Homo sapiens: one gene and its partners. The protein of the gene in region 1 interacts with the protein of each later gene in a biochemical or structural test. Each region holds a gene or a part of one and is shown in the gene's direction. Other genes may lie near its edges. The genes, in order: CARD14, SLC15A5, UBAC1, RALBP1, DOCK4, ABCC4 and DGKZ.

Evidence for each region.
Region 2: the proteins of CARD14 (region 1) and SLC15A5 interact in a test that uses a peptide from one of them, tested with the Homo sapiens proteins (one large-scale study listed by IntAct).
Region 3: the proteins of CARD14 (region 1) and UBAC1 form a complex in vitro, tested with the Homo sapiens proteins (one study listed by BioGRID).
Region 4: the proteins of CARD14 (region 1) and RALBP1 interact in a test that uses a peptide from one of them, tested with the Homo sapiens proteins (one large-scale study listed by IntAct).
Region 5: the proteins of CARD14 (region 1) and DOCK4 interact in a test that uses a peptide from one of them, tested with the Homo sapiens proteins (one large-scale study listed by IntAct).
Region 6: the proteins of CARD14 (region 1) and ABCC4 interact in a test that uses a peptide from one of them, tested with the Homo sapiens proteins (one large-scale study listed by IntAct).
Region 7: the proteins of CARD14 (region 1) and DGKZ interact in a test that uses a peptide from one of them, tested with the Homo sapiens proteins (one large-scale study listed by IntAct).

What each region holds. Positions count from the first base shown.
Region 1 is NC_000017.11:80,201,030-80,204,529, forward strand, and holds part of CARD14 (caspase recruitment domain-containing protein 14), read left to right. Parts: exon of another isoform or gene 1-714; coding exon 715-841; exon of another isoform or gene 842-1,150; coding exon 1,151-1,391; coding exon of another isoform or gene 1,392-1,395; exon of another isoform or gene 1,396-2,647; intron 2,648-2,748; exon of another isoform or gene 2,749-2,792; coding exon 2,793-2,856; exon of another isoform or gene 2,857-3,197; coding exon 3,198-3,312; coding exon of another isoform or gene 3,313-3,322; exon of another isoform or gene 3,323-3,500. UniProt on the Homo sapiens protein: Acts as a scaffolding protein that can activate the inflammatory transcription factor NF-kappa-B and p38/JNK MAP kinase signaling pathways.
Region 2 is NC_000012.12:16,274,886-16,278,844, reverse strand, and holds the start of SLC15A5 (solute carrier family 15 member 5), read left to right. Parts: upstream 1-1,159; coding exon 1,160-1,520; intron 1,521-2,319; exon of another isoform or gene 2,320-2,652; intron 2,653-2,993; exon of another isoform or gene 2,994-3,959. UniProt on the Homo sapiens protein: Proton oligopeptide cotransporter.
Region 3 is NC_000009.12:135,932,469-135,934,921, reverse strand, and holds the end of UBAC1 (ubiquitin-associated domain-containing protein 1), read left to right. Parts: intron 1-1,406; coding exon 1,407-1,522; 3' UTR 1,523-1,953; downstream 1,954-2,453.
Region 4 is NC_000018.10:9,524,013-9,527,512, forward strand, and holds part of RALBP1 (ralA-binding protein 1), read left to right. Parts: intron 1-581; coding exon 582-743; intron 744-1,707; coding exon 1,708-1,839; intron 1,840-3,500. UniProt on the Homo sapiens protein: Multifunctional protein that functions as a downstream effector of RALA and RALB. As a GTPase-activating protein/GAP can inactivate CDC42 and RAC1 by stimulating their GTPase activity.
Region 5 is NC_000007.14:111,744,900-111,748,399, reverse strand, and holds part of DOCK4 (dedicator of cytokinesis protein 4), read left to right. Parts: intron 1-956; coding exon 957-1,133; intron 1,134-1,982; coding exon 1,983-2,066; intron 2,067-3,500. UniProt on the Homo sapiens protein: Functions as a guanine nucleotide exchange factor (GEF) that promotes the exchange of GDP to GTP, converting inactive GDP-bound small GTPases into their active GTP-bound form. Involved in regulation of adherens junction between cells.
Region 6 is NC_000013.11:95,070,952-95,074,451, reverse strand, and holds part of ABCC4 (ATP-binding cassette sub-family C member 4), read left to right. Parts: intron 1-127; coding exon 128-238; intron 239-1,147; coding exon 1,148-1,248; intron 1,249-2,598; coding exon 2,599-2,790; intron 2,791-3,500. UniProt on the Homo sapiens protein: ATP-dependent transporter of the ATP-binding cassette (ABC) family that actively extrudes physiological compounds and xenobiotics from cells.
Region 7 is NC_000011.10:46,374,963-46,378,462, forward strand, and holds part of DGKZ (diacylglycerol kinase zeta), read left to right. Parts: coding exon 1-83; intron 84-469; coding exon 470-669; intron 670-888; coding exon 889-989; intron 990-1,103; coding exon 1,104-1,183; intron 1,184-1,365; coding exon 1,366-1,435; intron 1,436-1,439; exon of another isoform or gene 1,440-1,522; intron 1,523-1,561; coding exon 1,562-1,602; intron 1,603-2,110; coding exon 2,111-2,250; intron 2,251-3,235; coding exon 3,236-3,267; intron 3,268-3,494; coding exon 3,495-3,500. UniProt on the Homo sapiens protein: Diacylglycerol kinase that converts diacylglycerol/DAG into phosphatidic acid/phosphatidate/PA and regulates the respective levels of these two bioactive lipids.

The sequences.
Region 1 (3,500 bases):
TGGCCCAGGGGTTGGGGAACCCTGCTCTTAAGGTTCCCAATTATCAGCTCTGAGGTAGTTCAAGCAACAGAGCCCCTTGACGATGTTCAGGGAGATAGTCCCGATATCCTAAGGGGGCCAATTAGATTCTAATGGTGTTAAAACACATCTTAATTTTTATTGTAAAAATATCTACTCTCCTAAGCTTAGAACAATATTGAGAAGAAATGAAGTGGATGGTGGAAGCCCTGGGGGGTGGGCCTTCACAGTGGGGAAGGCTGTGGGTGGAGAGCCAGGGCATCGGGTAGGTGAAGGCCAGGGATGCCACTCAGCATCCTGTAGGGCCCGGTATAGCCCGCAGCAGCACAGAATGATCCCAAGGCTAAGAAACCTCTATCTAGAATGCTCTTGAATGTTCTAGAACCGAGGTTCTTTCTTTTCTTTTCTTTTCTTTTTCAAGACAGGAAAGTGCTTATCACAAAGAACCCCCGATCTCGACTGGGGAAGGGTTGGCAGTTGACTCTCTGGCCAGCACTATGTGTAGCACGCATCACTAGAGGTGTGAAGGCCCCACAGAGGCTCTGGTGTGTGGCTTTGTTTTGACCAAGGCGTGCAGGCAGTGGTCCTACGGCAGGGCTGGCCCGCGCCTCGCCTCAGTGCCCTCAGCGCCTTCTGTCTTCTGGCTGGATTCAGAGTCCCGGGGGAAAGAGACTGACCTTCTCGACTTGCCCTCAGGTTGATTACGAAGCCTCAGAGCCCTTGTTCAAGGCAGTCCTGGAGGACACGACCCTGGAGGAGGCCGTGGGGCTTCTCAGGAGGGTGGACGGCTTCTGCTGCCTGTCTGTGAAGGTCAACACGGACGGTACACATACCACTCCTCTCGTGTGCACAGCTGCCTGGCCAGACTCCATGACCCTTAAGTCCCTGGTGGTTCTTCTGCACGCCCAGCAGCCAGGGACCCCCAGAGCCAAGAGAGGATCAGCCAGGCTGTGCCCCAGGTCCCCAGGAGGCCCCCAAGCCAGCTGGAAACCTCCCACCCACTGACTCCAGTGCCAGAGCAGCTTCTGAGACTGGGAGGGTCCTTCCTTCTCTCCTACTTTAATTTTCTGCAACCTTCCTCGCAGAGGCTCGTATCTGTGGCTCATCTGTGGCTCATGTCCCCTTTTATCAGGTTATAAGAGGCTACTCCAGGACCTGGAGGCCAAAGTGGCGACCTCGGGGGACTCATTCTACATCCGGGTCAACCTGGCCATGGAGGGCAGGGCCAAAGGGGAGCTGCAGGTGCATTGCAACGAGGTCCTGCACGTCACCGACACCATGTTCCAGGGCTGCGGCTGCTGGCATGCCCACCGCGTGAACTCTTACACCATGAAGGATACTGCCGCGCACGGCACCATCCCCAACTACTCCAGGTGAGCAGCTGCCTCGAGCTCGGTGCGTCCCCAGAGAGGCCCACAGGGAAATGGCACCCAGCCTGCCTCGGCTTCCTCCTCCTGCCCAGCAATAGAGGGTGGGCGTGGTGAGACCCCCCTAAGGAGGGAAGCCTGCCAAGATCACTGCTGAAGATGTTGTTTCTTTGTGATGGATGCTTTATATATTGCAAATGAAATGTTCATTCTAGAACATTCTAGATCTGGGTTTCTTAGCTCTGGGTTTCTTAGCTTTGGTACCATGGACGTTTGGGGCTGGATCCCCGTCTGTGGTGGGGCCGTCCTGGGCACTGCAGGATATAGAGCAGCATCCCTGGCCGCCCTACCCAGGATGCCGGGACTACTCCCATGCCCCAGCTGTGACAACCAGAAATGTCTCTATAGGTTGCCAAGGGTCCCCTGGTTCTCCTAGGACTGTCTTGGTCTTAGCACTGAAAGCCCCACTTGCAGGGAAGCCCCTCGGTCCTGGGCAAGCAGGGACAGCTGGTCACCCTCCCTGGGGAGTGACATTGCCCCCTGCCTTGCTCCATTGAAAACCACTGCTCTAGGCCGAGCATGGTGGCTCACACCTGTAATCCAAACACTTTGGGAGGCCGAGGCGGGTGGATCATCTGAGGTCAGGAGTTCGAGACCAGCCTGGGTAACCTGGTGAAACCCTGTCTCTATTAAAAATACAAAAAACTTAGCTGGGCGTGGTGGCAGGTGCCTGTAATCCCAGCTACTCAGGAGGCTGAGGCAGGAGAATCACTTGAACCCCGGAGGCAGAGGTTGCAGTGAGCCGGGATTGAGCCATTGCACTCCAGCCTGGGCGACAGAGTGAGACTCTGTCTCAAAAAAAAAAAAAAAGAAAAGGAAACCATTGTTCTAGATCAGCCTATGGGAGGCTCCAAGTTTCAAGTGCACGGAACGCACAGTGCTAGAAAGCAGGAGTGTTGAGCTCAGCACCCCCATCACTCATTGCAAACTCAAGTCCCCTGGGGATCGGAGCCAGCAGGTCCAGGGAGAGGCCTGGCACTCTGCATTTCTAACAGCTCTCTCGGTGACTCCAGGCTGCAGGCCAGGGACCCACCATGAATATTGAGGTCCTGGAGTGGGGCCCTGTACGCTGGCTGCTCAACAGCACCCCCTGGGTCCCGCCCCAGGACAAGTAAATCAGCATCTCCAGGGGTGGGCCGAGGCCCTGGAGTCTTTTGAAAGCTCTGGAGACTGGCATGGCCGCCAGGATGGAGCGCTCCAGCCTGCAGCAAAGGGATGTGTGGAGCTCTAGGTGGAGGCCCTTCTCTCCCACCCGGCCATCTCCCCCACTCTCCCCTGCTCGGCTCTCCCCTGCCCTGCTCACCTGGCAGGAGGCAGCTGGGTCAGGGCCTCTGCTGGTCTCTGCAGGGCTCAGCAGCAGCTCATAGCCCTCATCCAGGACATGACTCAGCAGTGCACCGTGACCCGCAAGGTGAGGCTCCAGGGAGGGGCCTGGACCCCACTGGGGTGGGCTGGAAGAGGGGCTCGGTGCTGGCAGGGTGGCAGGAGGCACTGTGTGGAGAGTGGGCTGCTGATTGGAGGGTAACCCCACCTGTCTCTCCTCTGCACCCCTTCAAACCAGGGCAGGGTCTGCAGCCCCTGCCCAGCCTGCAGGCTCTTGCACAAGTGCAGACACACCTCAGGCTGTTCTCAGAGCATCTGCGCCTCTGCATCACTCCCAGGTCGCCCTAGTGCCAATCATCTCCCCTGAATTCCCATTCCTGTTGATGGCTTCAACAGCTCCTCCTCATCCTTTCTCTGTCCCTCCTTTAGCCATCTTCTGGGGGACCACAGAAGCTGGTCCGCATCGTCAGTATGGACAAAGCCAAGGCCAGCCCTCTGCGTTTGTCCTTTGACAGGGGCCAGTTGGACCCCAGCAGGATGGAGGGTGAGGCCTGGTGAGCTGGCACAGGGGCCACTGGCTCCAAGTGGGTGAGGGGCTTTGGGAGCTGCTGCTAGTTGGTCAGCTGGGGCAGGGGGATGCCACTCATTTAGGCCAGGATCTGGTCTTCAAGAATCATGGGGCTGGGTGTGGTGGCGCACACCTGTAATCCCAGATACTCGGGAGGCTGAGGC
Region 2 (3,959 bases), on another chromosome or scaffold:
ACCAAAGTAGCAATGCTGAGCAGAGACAAATAGCTACCATTACAATGAGGCTATTAGAAGGGGTCAAAACAGAGTATTTTGCCCCCAGTCTCTCACAACCAAAAGATGATAACCAGAGTCAAAAGTCCCTATTGGTCTTTAGGTTTTGACTACAGCATGAAAATAACATTCCTATACTCAAGTGTTGAATTATTATGACTTTGACCCAATAGTTCCGGTCCCTTTTCTTCCTATGTCCTTGCAGCTAAGCCACTAAATGTTAAGGTGTTCTCTTTCACTGCTGCTTTTTTAGCTTAATTGGCCCTCCTGCTTTCCAAAATAGAATGCTAACACCCATTCACCCAGCTGAAGGGTCAGGGTGATACCAGATCCAATATTCCCCAAAGCCTGTGTAGGCTGGTTGCTGTATCCCTGACTACTGATTAATAATAAAGGAGTTAAATAGCACCTTTTGATTCTGATTTCCTCTGAGAGGCTGTTCTACAAGCATGGGGTCAACTAAAAGGAAGCAGGGTTTCGTTTAATATTTTCTCCTTTCATTAGTGCACTTAAATTACTTTCTTGTAAACTCTGCTTGTTACCTAAATGTACTAGCACTTTTGTTACCTAATTAAGTTTCTTATCAGAATTCCAACCAAAAATAACAAGAAATGTAATAATGATAAGATATCGTGCCCTTCAAAACAGATTTCCTTTTGCGCTTTATCTCTTGGTACTGTTCTGGCTTGTTTAATTAAAGTATCAGAAATTATTAGACTCAAATTATTTCTTGATCTAGTGCTCAAATTCTCCCGAAAACCTGCTTCTTCTGCCTCAATATTTAAACCTTTATCAGTATGAGGCAGATGAGTTTCCACATGTTTGCAACTGGATTCATGTAATTCAATACAATTTTGGAGGACGATCCTAATTTAGCCGCTAAGTAATTAAGCAAACAAATCAGATTTGGGTACACTGAGCTACTGTGAACATTTAAATACTCATGCTCTTGGATCATCAAAAGGAACAACGTCCATGTGCAAAAAACAAACCTTATGAAATTCTAGCATGGAGATGTGAAATTCAAAGCAACGTTCTTATTTTTTTCATCAGAGGGATGGGGCTCAAAATATCACCAAGTTCAAACCACTAACATAAGTTTTGTTCAAGGAGGGTAGTCATGTCTGTTACAGGCTTTACCATAACTGATGAGAAAGTACACTTATATCACAGCATTGAGAAGGAGAAAACTGTAAGACATATTGGCGATTTGTGTTCCTCACACTCTGTGAAAAAAATTCAGGTTGGAATCTGCTTGCTTCTGGTGGAGCTGTGTGAGAGGTTCACGTTCTTTGAAGTCGTCTGCAACATGATCCCCTTTTGCACTATCAAGCTTGGCTATCACAATTGCCAAGCAGCCATCTTAAACTTGTGTTTTATTGGAACTTCAATACTTACCCCTGTGTTTGTCAGATGGCTCACTGATGTCTATTTAGGAAGAAACAAACTGGTGTACATTTGCTTGTTTCTACATTTTCTAGGTGAGTGTCCTCTGCTGACTGGATTGTTTTGTGACTTAATTAAGTAGATTTTTGTTAGAATTTTTAGTTTATATTATTTTCACTCTGCTCTTAGCATAAAATGTGATAAATGAAGTAAGAATGTGGGTTCAATGTATTTCATTCTTTGTACTATTTGAAGAATGCTAGTAAGTCTGTGTGTGTGTGTGTGTGTGTTAGAGAATGTTTTGTGCCTATATCATTGCATTTATATTTTATAATAATTACTCCTTTACATATCTATCTTACTCCTTAGAATGCCCTCCTTTCCCAAAACCTTTTTACCTCAAGCCTAAATTCATGACAAATTCCCTCAGAAATGTGAAATGTATTTGCTTCACAACTAAGATGAAATGTGCTAAAAAAGGTTTTTGAAGTTCATGTAAAATAATTGAGAAATGTTTTTATCCAAAGGTGGTCTTTTAATTAGTCATATAGTAATTAAGATTGCATATGATGGCATGATTTCTATATTTTTAACTATGATTATATGCTTTAGAAATGAGTAAATTAGACACTATAGTGTGCATCTTTACATATATACTAATATATATCTGCAAAAGTTTGGGACCGATTGTGAGAAATGCTGGGAAAATATCAAGATAGTTTAATAAGAAATAGAGAGCAACTTGAAGAACAGACTAGAATTTTAAACTGAAAAGTTCAAGTTATTCTTCTTAAGCAACAAGAAGTCTCTGAAAATATCATGAAAACAACATTTGAGAAATGCTATTCTGCAATACAGGATGGACAACCACAGTGAGGAATTAAATAGAGAGAGATCAGAAAATCTCAGGATGATGGTTTAAGCAATAAAGTGCCAATTCAGGAGAGAACAAGTGAAAAGCTGTAAGGCAACTAAATAAAGGTACAAATGTGATGGGGGTCAAAAATTAGCTCCAAGTTTCTGATCTGAGCAACTTGGGAATATAGCATGCTGTTCACCAATAATGAGAAGTGCAGCTGAAATGAGTATTGGTAGGGGGACAGATGAGAAAGAGATGGATAGATATCAGGTACTCAACATATCACACAATCTCAGGCAGGTGGTAAATTACCATTCAGAGAATCCATTGGAGTTTAAGTCAAACCTGGAAACTTCACAGCTTTAGTTCTGTGGAATAAAAACTAGGTCACTGCATGGCAAATAATCACTCAACATTCAACAAATATTTCTTATTGACTACTCTGTACCAGACATTATTCTGGGTCTGGAAATGCAATAGAGAAGAAAGTCGTCTGTTCCTGCTAAAGTTGACTTTTTGGTGCAGGGAGAGAGAAAATAAAAGAGGAAATAGATATGATGTCATGTGGCAATGAGTTAGGATGGAAAAATAAAGCTGGGTAGGGGGACAGGATGGAATGGATGGTGATGAGGCTGCTACTTGGTACCGAGAAAAAGTTTTCTGATAAGAAGACATTTAAGCAAATCCCAGACTAACTTACTCTGCTTACCTTGGTAACAGGCCACACCAGTAGCATTTGTTGACTTCTTGTTTAACATGGTAATTTCTATCAGTCTAAATTCTGAGGTCAGTCATCAGACAGGATGGAAATCCCAACTTTGGAATCTGGCAAACAAAAGACTTAAGTCAACTCTACATCCATTCATTTTTTTACTAAAAGTTATTTCTTTGTTGCCCTCCACTTACAGCTGCCATCAAATTCCAACTGTCACTAAATTTCAGAGGTTATATATAAGAAAGGTCTTCTGTCTGAATTGCTACTACCCTAGCTGAAAAAATGCAGCTTTCTTCTTTTTAACCATTCCAATGGCCTACTTACTCGGCTGCCAGTTCTCAGTCAGTCTCCAGCTTGTACTCCATTCTACCAACAACACTGACTTCCTGAACAAATAAATCTCTATATTGCTTCTATTATCTAAAAAATGAAATCCAAACTTATTAATTTAGCATACAACAACCTTACCAACCTATTCTAAGTTCACCTCTCTAGACTTGTTGTTCAACACGCAACCCCAACCTTGCTAACTTCTCCTGGCCTCCTTCCCTAGTTTTCTAATCTTGTACATGCTCTTCTCTCTTTCTGAAATTGTCACCTTCCCTTATCTTTCCATCCCTTATCCATGATTGGAAAACTCCTGCTATTCTTTCAAGAACCAAATAGTGTTTGTTGCTAGCTTCTCTGTGTTCAACCACACCCATATAATACTTATACGATTGCATCCATCACTTTATAATATAATTGTCCACCTGCATGGCTGACTTCTCTGATGGACTCAACATTTCCTTCAGCGGACCCCCATCACCTGGCAGGGGGTATGACACATCATGGTGCTTCTACAGAGCTACTAAATGCAGGCATACTGATGATGAGATACACAATTGCACACATCACAGAGGAGACTTTTCTTCATATATGTCATTGTTTTGTCTCTTTACTGCATCATTTTACAACAGA
Region 3 (2,453 bases), on another chromosome or scaffold:
GCAACAAAGCAAGTCGCTGTCTCAAAAAAAAATTAAATTCAAAAAGGAAAGTCCTTCCTCAGATAAATAATCATCTGTGTGGTTTTTCATATTTAACTCTTTATCTTTTTGTTCAACTCTTTCATCCTTCCAGAATTTATTTTGCTGTTTATTGAGAGGAAATGGGAAATTAAGTTCCCCGCCCTGTGTGTGAAACAGCTGTTTCGCACCTTATAGTTTGTTCTTTCTGAGTCTTTTTCTGGGATTTTTATTTTTATTTTTTGAGACGGAGTCTCACTCTGCTGCCCAGGCTGGAGTGCAGTGGCGCAATCTCGGCTCACTGCCAGCTCCGCCTCCCTGGTTCATGCTATTCTCCTGCCTCAGCCTTCCGAGTAGCTGGGATTATAGGCGCCTGCCACCACGCCCAGCTAATTTTTTATATTTTTAGTAGAGACAGGGTTTTACCGTATTAGCCAGGATGGTCTCGATCTCCTGACCTCATGATCCGCCTGCTTCGGCCTCCCAAAGTGTTGGAATTACAGGCATGAGCCACCGTGCCTGGCTTTTTCTGAGATTTTAAAGTGGTTTTTGGAGACTTTTAATCAGAACACCAGAGGATTGTTTTAAGGCCTGGGGATTGTCCAATCATGAACAGAGCCAAGTTGGGTTCACTCTGAGCTCTGTGCTCAGCCATGGGCTACTGGGCCGTGAATGGCTGTGAATTCTGTAGTGAGCACTGTCCCTGGAGCCTGTAGACCTGGGGCCACTTATGCTGAAGTGCGTCCATGTGTGTCAGGTCAGCATGGAGCCATCGATCCTGGCAGAGGGGCTGGCAGAACGCGTGCTCCTTCACAGTGGGTGGAACAGAGAGCTTTTTGCTAAAAGCCACCTGTTTTGGGGAAACAGTTTTGTAAAGCTGTTAAAACCCAAGTTTTCATTTTGAAGAAGTGCTGTGTTGCATTTTTAATGTGCTGGTTTTTTGAAGAAGGAATTTTCTGAAGGCTGAGCATTACGTTTTTCCAGTTTGTTGTTAACTTTGCAACAGTGTCTGTGTGTGTCCTTTCTGCATCTGCTGACCTTCTCGGGGTGGGATTGGAAGTGGAGTTGTTGGGGAAGATGATTTTTGAGCCCTGGCGGCTGCCAGACAGCTGCCGAGAGTGGGGGTGCCATGAGCACGCACAGGCACACTGCCCACCTGCCAGAATTGAGTGCATGACTCTCTGTGATCAGATCTGATTTGATGGGTGCATCCGATGGAGTTGGGTGGGTTTCAGCCTGAGAGTGCACACTTAGCAGTGAGCTCTGTGTGGCCTTTGTATTGGAGACGCACCCTCTTCATTAGGAAGCTGCCGAAGAGGAAAGTCACGCCTGTGCCTGTGGGCTGAGTGGGGGCGTGGGCACTCAGGCTGGCTCTGTTTTCCCTGCAGCATTTGAAGACATGCTGGAGAACCCACTGAACAGCACCCAGTGGATGAATGATCCAGAAACGGGGCCTGTCATGCTGCAGATCTCTAGAATCTTCCAGACACTAAATCGCACGTAGGTGGCGTTGTTCCACTCGGCTATCAGGCCACAGCAGCCCCCTGGTGCGGCCCGAGACCGGGCAGAGTGGACCTCACCTGGAAACTCACCTTCAGCGCCTCAGCCCTGGACTGTTAGAGGTGCTGCAGCTGCTCCTGCTCTCTGATCTTATTGCTTATAAACTTTGGTGACGGTAGTGTGTAAGGCCGTATTTTTAGCATCTGACAGGTGTTTACAAAAAAGTGGTTGTCGCACTGGGAAGTGGAGTGATGGCCTCGTCTCCAGTGCTCCTCTGGGCTCTTGAGTTGCTGCTTGAATTGCCGTGTAGACATTTGCTTGGAGAGTCCACTTGTTATTTGACGGAGGTAGGTTTCAACCCAGAGTTAATGTCAAGCATGCTAATTTAACTAGTCACTCACAGATGACTTTTCTTTAATAAAGTCCCTTTTCCTATTTCCTGTCTTCGTCTTTTCTTGGTGCCGCACAAGAAACCCGTGCGTCCCCGAGAGGCCACATCCCCGCGGCTCCGTGCCGGCTGCTCTGACCCGGGGCGGGCACCGGGGCCACCGCAGCATGTGGGAGGCCTTGTGGCCATGTTTGGTTGGCAAAGCCTCGTGTTGTATTGGGTTTAAGGGACTGGAGCTGAGCCCGTATTCCTGGGACACAGGTCCTGAGCCCAAGCACGGCTGCCTCCGCCTACCTCTGGCCTCTTCCTCCTTTTTTTTCATTTTAAAAAACATGACCGGTGTCTTAAAATGAGAAAATGAATTTATTTTGTTTTTTGTGAACTCTGCTCATTATTGTTGCTGGAAGCAGTCAGTTCCGAGCTGTTTGTTTTGAACTTCTCTTCTGAACCAGCCCCCTCCCCTTCTGAACTCTGCTTGCATTGTAGCTGAGTAAGAATGTTTTCGGAAAATGTTTCTCTCCACACATCTAGGTCTTTTCATTGTTTT
Region 4 (3,500 bases), on another chromosome or scaffold:
TGGGTAGATCATTTGAGGTCAGCAGTTCGAGCCCAGCCTGGCCAACATGGTGAAACTCCGTCTCTACTGAAAATACAAAAAAATCAGCCAGGTATGGTGGCACACGCCTGTAATCCCAGCTTACCGGGGAGGCTGAGGCAGGAAAATCGCTTGAACCCGTGAGGTGGAGGTTGCAGTGAGCTGAGATTGTGCCACTGCACTCTAGCCTGGGCTACAGAGCGAGGCTCCATCTCAAAAAAGCACCACCACCGCCACCAACAACAAAAAACACACAAAAAATAAGATGTTTAAATCAGTTAATACTGTGATAGAAAAAATAAACAAATGGATGGCATCAACTTCTCTATCCTTTTCTTGACTTTTTTTCCCTTCAGATCTTTCTGGTGCTTGAATACATGATTTAACTCATATTTTACCATTTTCTTCTTAAATTGGCTATTAACTAGCAAAGACTGTGTTGTCATTACTGGGTAGAATTTTCTTTATGTGTCCAGGATTAAAGGATATATTATGTAATAGACACAAATAAGTGAAATAGAATGATAGTTTTAATGGTTTTCTTGTAAATCTTTTTTTCTTAGATCAGCAATCGAGTCCTGTATGTGTTTTTCACACATGTGCAAGAACTCTTTGGAAATGTGGTACTAAAGCAAGTGATGAAACCTCTGCGATGGTCTAACATGGCCACGATGCCCACGCTGCCAGAGACCCAGGCGGGCATCAAGGAGGAGATCAGGAGACAGGTGTGTGCACCCTGCCTGCCACAGCCTGCCTCTGCATTGGCTGTTGTGGAGTCCAGTGGTGATGGGCTCTTGTTTCCTGAACACTTTCTGTGTGTCTGGAGCTATGTTAGGCACACTGAAGTCAGAAATTCCCATCTGGTACTGTTTCATGCCAAATAAGTCAGAATACCATGGTGGAAAGAGCATAGTTTTTGGAATCAAAACACCTGGCTTTAAATTCTTGCTCTGATCTAGTTAACTGATTTTAGGCAAATTCTTAACCACCTTAAGCACTGGTGTTCTTGCTTTAAAATGGATCCTCTTATAGGATTGATGTGAAGATTACCCCAAATGAGATAATATATGAAACATGCCAGGCACGTTGTAAATAGTCTAAAGATGTTTGCCTTTTCTTGACAAGGTTGCTGTCATCAGCCATATTTTATAGATAAGAATATTAAAATTCAGGGAAGTTAAGTAACTTACCCTGTGTGACATGATTACTAATTACAGACCCAAGATTTGAGCCCAAATCCTGGGATTTTTTACTGTGCTATTTTGATGGAAGTAACAATGCCGTGTGTGTGTGTGTGTGTGTGTGTGTGTAATTCAAGACTAAATAAGAAAGTTAATTACATTTGATTATTTATTTGCATGCAATTTATCAAACCCCTGCTTGCTTTTCTTCCCTTGTATCTGCCCTGAGCTCCCAATGCTTACTAGTTAATGATGATGACATTGGAGATGGGGATGTGGATTAAGTATTATTGAACCAATACAAATTAGTGAATAATTAATAGGCAAAACAATAAGAATGATTTTTCAATCATATCTTCAAAAAAATAATTAGTGCCATTATTTTACTCTAATGAAATAAAGGATAATTGAAAAATAGTTGATTCTTCATCTTTAGAAATTGCACGTGTTGTTAGTTTAAGATAAGAGGATATGAAATGCAACTAGGTGTGTGGCATTTGCTTTCTAGGAGTTTCTTTTGAATTGTTTACATCGAGATCTGCAGGGTGGGATAAAGGATTTGTCTAAAGAAGAAAGATTATGGGAAGTACAAAGAATTTTGACAGCCCTCAAAAGAAAACTGAGAGAAGCTAAAAGACAGGTGAGTTATTATTTTGATACCTAATGTTTATAATAGAATGTGTTTGAGTCTTTTATGTACTTTATGTACTCTTTTTTTTTCTTTCTTTCTTTTTTCTTTTGATGTTGACCAGGGTGGTCTCAAACTCTTGGCCTCAAGTAATCCTCCCACCTCGGCCTCCCCCAGAGTGCTGGGATTACAGACATGAGCCACCACCCCCAGCCCAAGTTCTTTCTGTTAAGAATATTATAATGTCACTTGAAGTGAACTTCTCTGGTGGGACATTTATTCACTAAAATGTTTCTAGTCCTATATTATTGATATTGCAGCCTGGTGTCAGTCACATGTTTCAGTGTAATCTAGAAAGTTTTTTTTTTTTTTTTTTTTTGAGACAGGATCTTGCTCTGTCACCCAGGCTGGAGTGCAGTGGCACGATAATGGCTCACTGTAGCCTCGACCTCCTGGGCTCAAGGGATCCTCCTACCTCAGCCTCCTGAGTAGCTGGGACTACAGGTGTGCGCCACCATGCTCGGCTCATTTTTTATTGTTTGTAGAAATAGGGTCTTGTTATGCTGCCCAGACTGGTCTCAAACTTCTGGGCTCAAGCAGTCCTCCCACCCCCCAAAGTGCTAGGATTATAGGCATAAGCCACCATGCCTGGCCTAGAAAGTTTTGTTTTAATTAAAAATGATTTTACTAAAAAATTTGTCATTTCCTGCTTGGTTATACCTGTAAACAGGGCTTTCTATGGATGAAAAACAGGCTGGATGGTGACACACCTTTGGGGACTGCTGGGGAATTTAAGGCATTTAGAATTAGTCAGCTCTTTGGAAATGTAGTGATGAGGGTCACCTGGAAGGCCTTGAAGATCAGGAGAGATTCTATTTATGTAATAATAATAAGAGTGGCCTGCAATACCTGATGAGTTTAGGGTATGCCAGTCAGACTTTTGAGTTCCCTCTTGTTTAGTGTGTGTTGCTTGGTTCTGGGACTGTGAGTGTACCAGCCACAGCAATGGTAAAATCCCAGATCTCTGGATCACCTTAAAATCCACATTGCAGATCAACTGCAGCATCTAAACAGCACATCCAAGGAACATTAGTTAGCCCTTGCCTGAATTGGGGAACATGATAGTAGGTCTCTGTTGTGGTTGTGTTAAAGAGACAAAGACAACCTGAATACTTCTGTTTCTTTGAGGTTAGAGATTTGTATTAATGTGGAGGATAGCTTTGTCACACGGGGCACATTCATGGGACTTTTACACGTGCGCTCCAGGATATGTAATGTAGCAGAAGCCCTCTGCGTATTTTTCTTCCTTCTTTTTCCTAGCTCACTAGGTTATCTATCTCTTGCTTCCTTTACGTGTTTTTTGTTTTTGGTGTTGGTGTTGCTGTTAAAATTTTCCCTTCATGTCTCAGCCTAGAATCAGGTATTAGAGATGGACCACTCAGGCTTCAGGGGCAAATTGTAATTGTTAATCATATGGCATTGCCAGTCAGCCTTTAAATGAAGAGTCCCCTGACTGACCTAGGACAGGGCTGATGGAGGTTTGGCTTTTGTTTCTCTTGCTTCTACATCTTGCCTAAATAAAGGAATCATGGTATAGCAGCCAGAACCAATATAAGAAGGGATGGATTAACTTTGCTTTACCGATTTTCCCGATGCTATGTTTTCACGCCAGC
Region 5 (3,500 bases), on another chromosome or scaffold:
CTTATATACCCTGAACACGTGCTTTTTGATGGTTACACATGTTACAAAATCTTCTATGTTCTTGCTTATCTTCCCTTCTCTTTGTCTTTGATGAATGTTCAGTCTTCATATTCTAGGATTTTTCAGTGTTGGTTTAAGATGATCCAAGTGACCTTTAAAAACTCTAATTTGTTTCCTTGCCTGAATGAACCAATATTTAAATATGCTAATTGTAGTCCTGAATTACTTGATTGCTGAGAGCTTGGCAGACCTTCTCTTCAAGGCAATAGCAGTCCCAATGACATACATTTGAAGAGCACTTTTATCATTTTCACAATTAGGTCCTCCATACAGCCTGGAATTTTTAAGTCATTATGATTCTATTTGGCTCTCCAACAAATAGATCCTGCAGTATATATTATCTTGTTTTCTATAATTCCCAACTGTGTGCCATCCTGTGCCACCTTATGGTGCTGTTATATATATATATGAGGTTCATGTGGCATATGTCCCATCTTCCCAACTGGGCTGAAAGCTCCTTGACATCAGAGGATCCATAAATGCATCTTTATATCTCCCATGGTGCTTTGTATCAAATAAGCATGAGAAAGGGGATAATATTCAGGGTCTCTGAATATTTAACCCTTCAAAAGAAAAAAAAAACTAGTTTTAAAAGACATGAGATGCTTGGATATTATTTTAAGGATTAAATTGGTTGTTGCAGTGCTAATGTAGAATTGATGATTATCCAAACCACATTTCAATGAATAAGTATAATTACCTGCCCTTTCCAAACCTTGCTAATGAACATCCCACTTGACTTCCACATCCTTGTCTATTCTACGGAATGGCCCCTGGTAGAGATATTGATGGAAGCCAAGGGGGAGCACAGATAATTCAGAACATGGATAAACTACTTTGTCTTTCTTCTTGAATGTCACAAATTCAATATATATTTATGTTCATTTGCTTCTCAGGTAGAAATGAGTCCTCTGGAAAATGCAATTGAAGTGCTAGAAAATAAGAATCAGCAGCTGAAGACTCTGATTAGTCAGTGTCAGACAAGACAGATGCAGAATATTAATCCCCTGACTATGTGCCTGAATGGAGTTATAGATGCTGCAGTTAATGGTGGCGTTTCCAGGTATCAAGAGGTAAGGATTAGGTATTGTTGTTTCAGAGAAAGTTTTCAATTGTGACTTCTTAGGGTTTCATGAATCTTTTTTCAGACTATGTACCCATATCAGCACGCAAACATAGGGCTGCGATTGACACAGAGTCCTTTGTTAAATAGAGCAAACATACAGTCATTTGTAATTGCCCAGTAACTCCATTTTCCCAACATGTTATATTTGGATAATAAAAATGTGTGTGTGTGTGTTCATTCTTGCATGAATAAAAGTAGAAAGGACATTAGGACTGTTTAATAAATATCCGTCTAAAATAATTTCTCTAAGCAAAGAAGTTCATGGGCATAGAAAAGTCTGATCTGGGCTGGGCTCAGTGGCTCACACCTGTAATCCCAGCACTTTGGTTTGAGACCAGCTTGAGCAACATAGGAAGATCTTATCTCTTATTTAAAAAAAAAAAAAAAAAAAAAAAAAAAGATAAGACCGATCTTGCTTAGATGATACTTTAAGTGGACCTTTCATCTGCTCTCTTAAACAGAAAGATATAATACCCTGGAAGGTAAGGCCACCATCTAGGTCACACTGAATCTTAAGGCAGTTTGTTTTAGGATACAAGCCATATAGCTTACTGATTTGGGCTTGTTCTTTATTTTAGCAAGGGTACTTATTGTACAATCACTGATCTTCCTTTAACAATTCTTTCCTTATGTTCCCATTCTGACCAACCACCTACACTAGTAATCAGCCCATCTGTCCCAAAATGTGGTTTGTAATGGTGTCATTTCCATAAAGATGCCAGGTCTTTAAAAACAACTTGTCTTTGACTTGCCTTGTACTCCACTAAAGTAGACTGATTCTCCTTTCCCTTACTAGGCATTCTTTGTCAAAGAATATATCTTAAGTCACCCTGAAGATGGGGAGAAAATTGCACGATTAAGAGAGCTGATGCTTGAGCAGGTAAGGGAAGCAGAAGCCAACCCCCTTCTATTTTGCCTGGATATGTGCTTGCTTACCTAGAGCCCCCTCTGCATGGTTTCCTGCATCAGTGGTCTAACAGAAGCTGGCAAGCAAGGGTGACAGATTCCTGTAATATATCCCAGCTTGCTAATTTCTACTTCTTCTTCCCACTCCGATGCAAAAATTAATTTAACAATGAGTAGACTATGGCAGCCAGTTACAGGTTGAGTATCCTTTATCCAAAATACTTGGGACCATAAGTGTTTCAGATTTTGAAATATTTGCATATACATAAGAGATATCTTGGGGGAGGGACCCAAGTCAAATAACAAAATTTATTATTTCATATATATCTTATACACATAGCCTGAAGGTCATTTTATATAATATTTTAATAATTTTGTGCATGAAGTTTCGACTGCAACCCATCACGTGAGGTTGGGTGTGGAATTTTCCACTTGTGGGATGTTGGCATTCAAAAGGCTTCAAATTTTGGAGGATTTCTGATTTTCAGTTTTTGTATTAGGGATGTTCAACCTGTGAAACAAACAACTTCATGTGGTCTCTTAAAACATTCTTTGAATGTTCTCTTCCTAGAGACTTGCTGTAGGCTTGATGCCAACTTTTTTTTTTTTTTTTTTTTTTTTTTTAAGACGGAGTCTCCCTCTGTCACCCAGGCTGGAGTGCAGTGGCATGATCTCTGCTCACTGCAAGCTCCGCCTCCTGGGTTCACGCCATTCTCCTGCCTCAGCCTCCCAAGTAGCTGGGACCACAAGTGCCCGCCACCACACCTGGCTAATTTTTTTTGCATTTTTAGTAGAGACGGGGTTTCACTGTGTTAGCCAGGATGGTCTCGATCTCCTGACCTTGTGATCCACCCGCCTCAGCCTCCCAAAGTGCTGGGATTACAGGCGTGAGCCACCGCGCCTGGCCGATGCCAACTTTTCACTCAAAATTCTGTGCTCAGAAAAGTTCAGGCCAACTCCAAATATGAGGCATGAATGAAATTTTTACTTAAGCATTGTAATAAGGAAGTGGGCAATCAGTAGATCTTGCTTTAAAGCAGTGTCATATTTTGCAAAGTAAACCTATAGGTTACATGATATGGACAAAACTACATACAACTCATCATTTTCTACCCCCAGAGAAGCGTGGTTTATTTATTTGGAACCATCAAGTACAAAGAACTGGAATGAGTAATCTGTTGCCTACTGTGTCCCTATTGATAGCCTGAAATGGTTTGAAAACCTCTGAGGTAGGAGACATGGTTGGAAGCCTGTGTTAAACAGGAAATAAAGACATTTGCTTCCTGTGAAAAGTGGAATATGTGTGATGAAACATGACAAAGGCATTTCTTTCTACCCAATAATGCCAAATTAATAAGTAAAGCATGCTCTTTGGATTAGAAAATGAGGTCGTGTCTGGTTTTCATCC
Region 6 (3,500 bases), on another chromosome or scaffold:
AAGGTTCCTTGGGTGTGCAACTTTGGTGCCCTACTCCACGTAAAAATCTTCTGTAGCTCAACTGAGCAAAACACACTCGCACATTCATCTACTTATTCATCATGCTTATTACCGTTCTCAAATTCAGAGGCTTGGTTCTTGTTTTTGACAACGTCCCGCTGGTTTGCCGTCCGTCTGGATGCCATCTGTGCCATGTTTGTCATCATCGTTGCCTTTGGGTCCCTGATTCTGGCAAAAAGTAAGTACAGATGTGAATAACTATGTATGGTATGATTACAATTTATAGCTGTGTTTACATTTATTAAACTCTTGCCACCTTGTCTACTACTACATACTGTTTGGTCCTAATGAAGTGTATTAAATCATTTACGATGTGTCAGGTTGGGTAGGATTCAGCAGTGTGACTCATTTAAGGAGTCATTTGGGTCTTGATGGGTTTATCTTTCTTTGAATGGGTTGAGATATGCGCAGTTGAGATTCTGAACATTCCTGTTAGTGTCTGGTAGTTGTGAAGAGAAAACCAATTTATTCTGAAGCATTTTGTCCAACTTAGGGTGTTAGCCTTCCAACTACTTGAATCTATTGTTTGTAGTTGCCTGGTGCATGAGGTTGAGAAAAATTCTCAGCAGGAGAGTATTATCTTCAATGCCACATGGGTACCAGACAAGCAGGGCATGAGTTCACCACCCCAGTAACAACAGTGCATTACAATACTTAATAATGGAACAAGGAGAGTAGTATTTTAGTCTCAAAAGCATTGGCACTTACAACCTATTGCTTTGTTTTTAGTGGTTTCCAGCTGTGGTTGCATTGCACGTAGAAAGTGGAATAATGTAATGAGCTTTGAAACCATAATAATGAATGTCTGAATAATGACATTATTTCTTGCGTTTGTAATACTGTTAATTAAATCTATGTCGATCCTGTTGGAATTCATAAAATCATCTAAAAATTTTTCTAAATATACAGTGTTGTTTTCCCCATTGTATCTTGATCTCAAGCAACAAATGGTAAAAGTATAGCTATTAATGTCATTAAATGTGAATTGTTTCAACATTATGAAGGGTTCCTCTTGGTAAGTGGCAGAAGGAGCCAGGCTTAGGTTTGAAGTGAGACTGACTTTATTCCCTTCTTCCTCCTTACGTAGCTCTGGATGCCGGGCAGGTTGGTTTGGCACTGTCCTATGCCCTCACGCTCATGGGGATGTTTCAGTGGTGTGTTCGACAAAGTGCTGAAGTTGAGAATATGGTAATATTTACCTTCACGTTCTTTGCCTTTTCAATCTCCTTGCCATTAAATGGTATAAAAGCCATTCTTATGTGAAATATTAAAACTGTTATTTTTACATCTTTGGTAACAGATTTTTTTTAAGATCCTTCCTCCATCTGTTTAAAGTTAATGTAAAATAAAATATATACATCTTTTTCTGAGTCTTATGGTTGCTCTGTCAGCAGGTTTTATATTCATCACAAGCTTTTTCAGATGTAATAAATGTCTCTGTAGGAGGGAGGTTCTGAAATTCTAGAGAGGATATAAGCTAATTTCTTAGAAGCCTGTTTAATTTTGTTTCTTAACGGGTAATTCCTCATTCCTGTTAAAAGAAGACTTCAGTATTTTGAGGTTGTTTACATTTAATTAATAGGTCTCCTCCTCTCCCAGTTCTAGCGTTTACTCTCTTATGTGAAGAACAGAAGGGAGGAAGGCCTTAACTTTGCTGGTGTGCCTTCTTGGTACAGAAAGCCTCCTCTTGGAATGTGCTAGTCAAAGGGTATTAGTTTATGGTGGTATAGGAGGCTTTAATCAATGTTTTAAATATTTGCACCTTCCCCTAAAGAGAGAAAAGCAATAAACATAAAAATCTTTTCATTCTTCTCATAGAGCAAAAGTTGAGTAATTATTACAGTGAGGTTTCACGATCATCCAGTTTAACTGACCTATATCAGGTGATCCTTCTATAGCAAAAGATTCTTTTTTGGGGGGTAGGGGTGAGGGGACAGAGTTTTGCTCTTGTACCCCAGGCTGGAGTGCAATAGTGCGATCTTGGCTCACTGCAACCTCCGCCTCCCGGGTTCAAGCGATTTTCCTGCCTCAGCCTCCTGAGTAGCTGGGATTACAGGCATGCAGCACCACGCCCAGCTAATTTTTGTATTTTTAGTAGAAATGGGGTTTCACCATGTTGACCAGGCTGGTGTCAAACACCTGACCTTAGGTGATCCACCTGCCCCGGCCTCCCAAAGTGCTGGGATTATAGGCATGAGCCACCGCGCCCAGCCAGCAAAAGATTCTTGATTGGTGGCTCTAAGTATTCCTTTCCTTTACAAAATTTTCTTGCCTTTAATACAGGTGTGAGAAGTGGATAAATAAAATCTAAGCATTCATTTCTCTCATTCTTTTAACCTAATGTTGAAGGAAGTGGTTGTAAGTGAAGGTGTTACACAATGATGAACCAAATTTGTAAGTCATCAACATCCTCGTCTGTCTCCTGCTTCTCTCCTTAACCAACTATGTATGAAAGAAGAACATTTCATTGACAGTCTCTTAACATCCATAAATGACACCCTCCATTCCTAACCCCTCGGGATGTCATATTTCTTTCAGATGATCTCAGTAGAAAGGGTCATTGAATACACAGACCTTGAAAAAGAAGCACCTTGGGAATATCAGAAACGCCCACCACCAGCCTGGCCCCATGAAGGAGTGATAATCTTTGACAATGTGAACTTCATGTACAGTCCAGGTGGGCCTCTGGTACTGAAGCATCTGACAGCACTCATTAAATCACAAGAAAAGGTTTGTTTAAAGCATCTTGCCTCTTCTCAATTTCAGAAGATTTAGTGCTATGTCTGCTTGTTGTCTTCCTTGTGGATGTGTGAAGGGGATCAGTGATACGTAGGTTAACCTGTCTTGGAAACTAACCATGGAATGTGGATACCAACATTCTTCCTGCTGTGAACTGCTTTACTGTGGTTGGTGGGCCCCGGGCCTCAGGGCTGGAGCTTAACGTGACCCAGGATACTCTGTTTGATACCTAATTACTCATGGATTTTTCCAGGAAGTCAACTCTGGCTTTGTGTCACCAACACTCCTATGTCTAATTCTGTCGATTTTTACTTTGTTGCATTTCTCAAGTCCTTCTCTTCCCCTCCACTGCTGCAGCTTCTGTTCCAGCCTTTCTCCTCCTCCATCCTTTGGTCCTGTATTAGTCTGTTTTCACACTGCTGATAAAGGTATACCCAAGACTAGGCAATTTACAGAAGAAAGAGAGGTTTAATGGACTTAAAGTTCCACATGGATGGGGAGGCCTCAGACTCATGATGGCAGGCAAGGAGGAGCAAGTCACATCTTATATGGATGGCAGCAGGCAAAGAGAGTTTGTGCAGGGAAACTTCCCCTTATAAAACCATCAGATCTCATGATACTTATTCACTATCATGAGAACACCACAGGAAAGACCTGCCCCCATGATTCAATTACCTCCCACCGGGTCCCTCCCACAACAT
Region 7 (3,500 bases), on another chromosome or scaffold:
ACCCTGGGGAGCACCACGACTTTGAGCCCCAGCGGCATGACGACGGCTACCTCGAGGTCATTGGCTTCACCATGACGTCGTTGGTGAGTGGGCCCTGGGCCCATGGTGCCTGGGAGCACAGCCCAAAGGTGGAAGGGGTCACCCATACTCACCTCCATGGGCCACGGCGGCCTAGTTCACCCTCACCTCCCTTCTTTGTCTCATTCCTCTGGCTTGAGAGCGGCACCTACCCCCTCTCCTCACTATGCCTCGGGATACCTTCACTCCCCACTCTGACTGGAGCGTCACCCTCATTGCCTCTGTCCCTTCCCTTTCCTACCTGGGGTCTCAGCCTCCCCTCTGCCCTCTGGCCAGGGGTCACTCTCACCTTTGTTCTCTGGCTAGAGTTTCTGCTTCGGAAGGAGCAGAGTCTGGGACCCCCCTGCCCCCAGCCCTGGTGCCATCTGACCCAAGCTTCCTGTGCCCACAGGCCGCGCTGCAGGTGGGCGGACACGGCGAGCGGCTGACGCAGTGTCGCGAGGTGGTGCTCACCACATCCAAGGCCATCCCGGTGCAGGTGGATGGCGAGCCCTGCAAGCTTGCAGCCTCACGCATCCGCATCGCCCTGCGCAACCAGGCCACCATGGTGCAGAAGGCCAAGCGGCGGAGCGCCGCCCCCCTGCACAGCGAGTACGTCCCACCCTGCCACGTGCCCTGGGTGCCAAGGCCAGACCCTGCCCTCTCTGGGCCTTGATTTCCCCATCTGTAAAAGGGGCTGACTGTCCCTCTGCCCCAGGGGTGTTGGGAGTGGAGCGGGACCTTCTCTCGGCAAGTGGTTTGGTGCCAGGCCGAGGGTGGCACCAAGGCAGGGCCCTTGCTGAGCCCCCGCTTGCCGGCCCTGCCCGACAGCCAGCAGCCGGTGCCAGAGCAGTTGCGCATCCAGGTGAGTCGCGTCAGCATGCACGACTATGAGGCCCTGCACTACGACAAGGAGCAGCTCAAGGAGGCCTGTGAGTGCGGTGGGGCGGCCTGGCAGGGTGGCCAGGAGGGGCTGAAGCAGCCGGGGCCCCCTTGGGCAGGGCTGTGGGGTGCAGCCAGCTGCTGACAGGTGCTCTGTTCTCCAGCTGTGCCGCTGGGCACTGTGGTGGTCCCAGGAGACAGTGACCTAGAGCTCTGCCGTGCCCACATTGAGAGACTCCAGCAGGTAAGGGGTGGGGGCTTCCCCAGGTGCCCACCGAGAGGGTGGTGGGAAGTGAGGCCAGGCCTCTTCCTCCCGCAGCCAGCTCGCCCTGCGGAGCCTCCTCTGTGCTGGTTCCCCCTACTCCAAGTTCCCTTCCCTCCCTGGCCCCCACTCTATCCCAGCCTGGCCTTTGCTTCTCTCAACAGGAGCCCGATGGTGCTGGAGCCAAGTCCCCGACATGCCAGAAACTGTCCCCCAAGTGGTGCTTCCTGGACGGTGAGTCTACTCCCAGGGTGCCAAGCTGTTTCGTGTTCCCTCCCTAGGGGATCCCAGGTAGGGGCAGCAGAGGACCTGGGCCTGGACATGGCACTCCCTGATCCTCAGCTGCCCTCTCTCCCACAGCCACCACTGCCAGCCGCTTCTACAGGATCGACCGAGCCCAGGTGAGCGATTGCAGGCCTGCTCCAGCCACAGCTGCTTCCGGGCCCCAGGGTCGCCTCTCCTGGGACGCCTTCCCTGTTAGCTCCCCCGATGGGCTCACCTCTGTCCTCATGCCTCTGAGAGCTTTTACTATTGCCTGTGTGCATGGACAGCGTGCGGCCCTGCCCTCCACACTGGAGAGTATAGGGCGGTGCCAGCCAGAAAGGCAGTGGGGTACCTACCAAAGGCTTGCTGGGTGGGTAGGAGGGCCTGGAAGCCCAGAGCCATCCAGGGAGACACAGAAGCAAAGGCATTCTGGTCAGGCGCCAGCTCACCTGGTAAAGTCTGGGCAGTCGGAGGAGGTGTCAGGAATGGGAAGGAGTGGGAGAGGGACAGGCAGGGCCCCTTGCCTGGCCACCTCCTTTCAGTGTTTGTGCTCATGGCAGAGGCTTCTCCAGGTCTACCAGCCTTGCTGCCCCTCGGCCCCCACCGTCAGGTGCCCTGACCTCCCGCCCTGACCTCCCCCCACAGGAGCACCTCAACTATGTGACTGAGATCGCACAGGATGAGATTTATATCCTGGACCCTGAGCTGCTGGGGGCATCGGCCCGGCCTGACCTCCCAACCCCCACTTCCCCTCTCCCCACCTCACCCTGCTCACCCACGCCCCGGTGAGTCCTGGTGTCCCGTCCCTCCAGCCCCTGGCTTTCAGCCCCACCTGTAAGCCGATGACTTCTGAATCCCTGCTTCTAGCCCCTCCACCAGTTAACTAAATGGTGTCAACCTGAACCTGGCCAAAGCCCACCTGACGGCCTTCAGCCCTGTGGTTCTGTGGGGAAGCGGCCTCACGTCCACCCTGGTTCCCTCCCTGACTTCTCCCTCCTCTGGACCTCATCCTTCAGCCAGTCCTGGCAGCCCCCGGACCCACCACCTGAGCACTCCTCCCCACCCCTACTGCCACCAGCCCTTCCCGGCTGCCACGCCCTGGCCCCCAGCTCTTATATCCCTGTGGCCATTCGTGCCCTCGAACCCCCATCTCCATACCACGGTCAACTAAAAATGCAGAGCATACCAGGCCACTCCCCAACCTAGAAGCTTCTTTCTCAGCAGCCCTTTGGACGTGGATTCTCCCCAGGCCCCCCGTCATTGCACTGGGCTCCCAGCCCCCTCCCTGAGTTCACCTCCATGGTCCTGCCCCACTCTCTTCTCTTGGTTCTTTGAGGCATCAGGTGTTTGCCACCACTGGACTTCTGTCATCGCTGCCTCCAACTCTTCCCCCATCTTTCCGGAGCTCCCCCACCCCCATCCCCTTCGAATCTCAGCTTGGCTGTTTCCTCCTTGGAGAGATCACTCCCAGGACCCCCTCTGCAGGGGTGCCACATCACCTGTTCTGAATTCTTAAGAGCACCCCTGCTCTCAGAACTCCTTATTTATTTGACTTGTTTGTATCCCTGAACTAGAATGTAAGCTCCATGAGGGCAAGGCCTTCCTCTGTCTCGTTTCCCTGCTGTATCCCCAGTGCCTGGAATAGTGCTTGGTGTGTAGCAGGCACTCAATAAACTGTGGAAAGGATGAAGATGCCCCCAGTTGGGGTTGGGGAGGGCGACCAGCTGGCCTGTGCCGTAGCCGGTCACAGCACATCATGCTCTGTTGCAGGTCACTGCAAGGGGATGCTGCACCCCCTCAAGGTGAGGCCTCTCCCTCTGGGGCCCCTCCTTTCTGCCTGGTTGGGGGCAGGAGGCTCAGTGGGGTGGGGATAGGGCCCAGACACAGCCTTACACAAACACAGCCTTTGAGCTTCACGCACCAACGGAGCCCTGGGCACACATGCCTGGCCGGCACAGTCCTGTCCACTGAGGCACCAACCCAAGCCCAGGCCTCCGACTGCAGAGTAACAGGCAGGTATTCCGTGCAGGTGAAG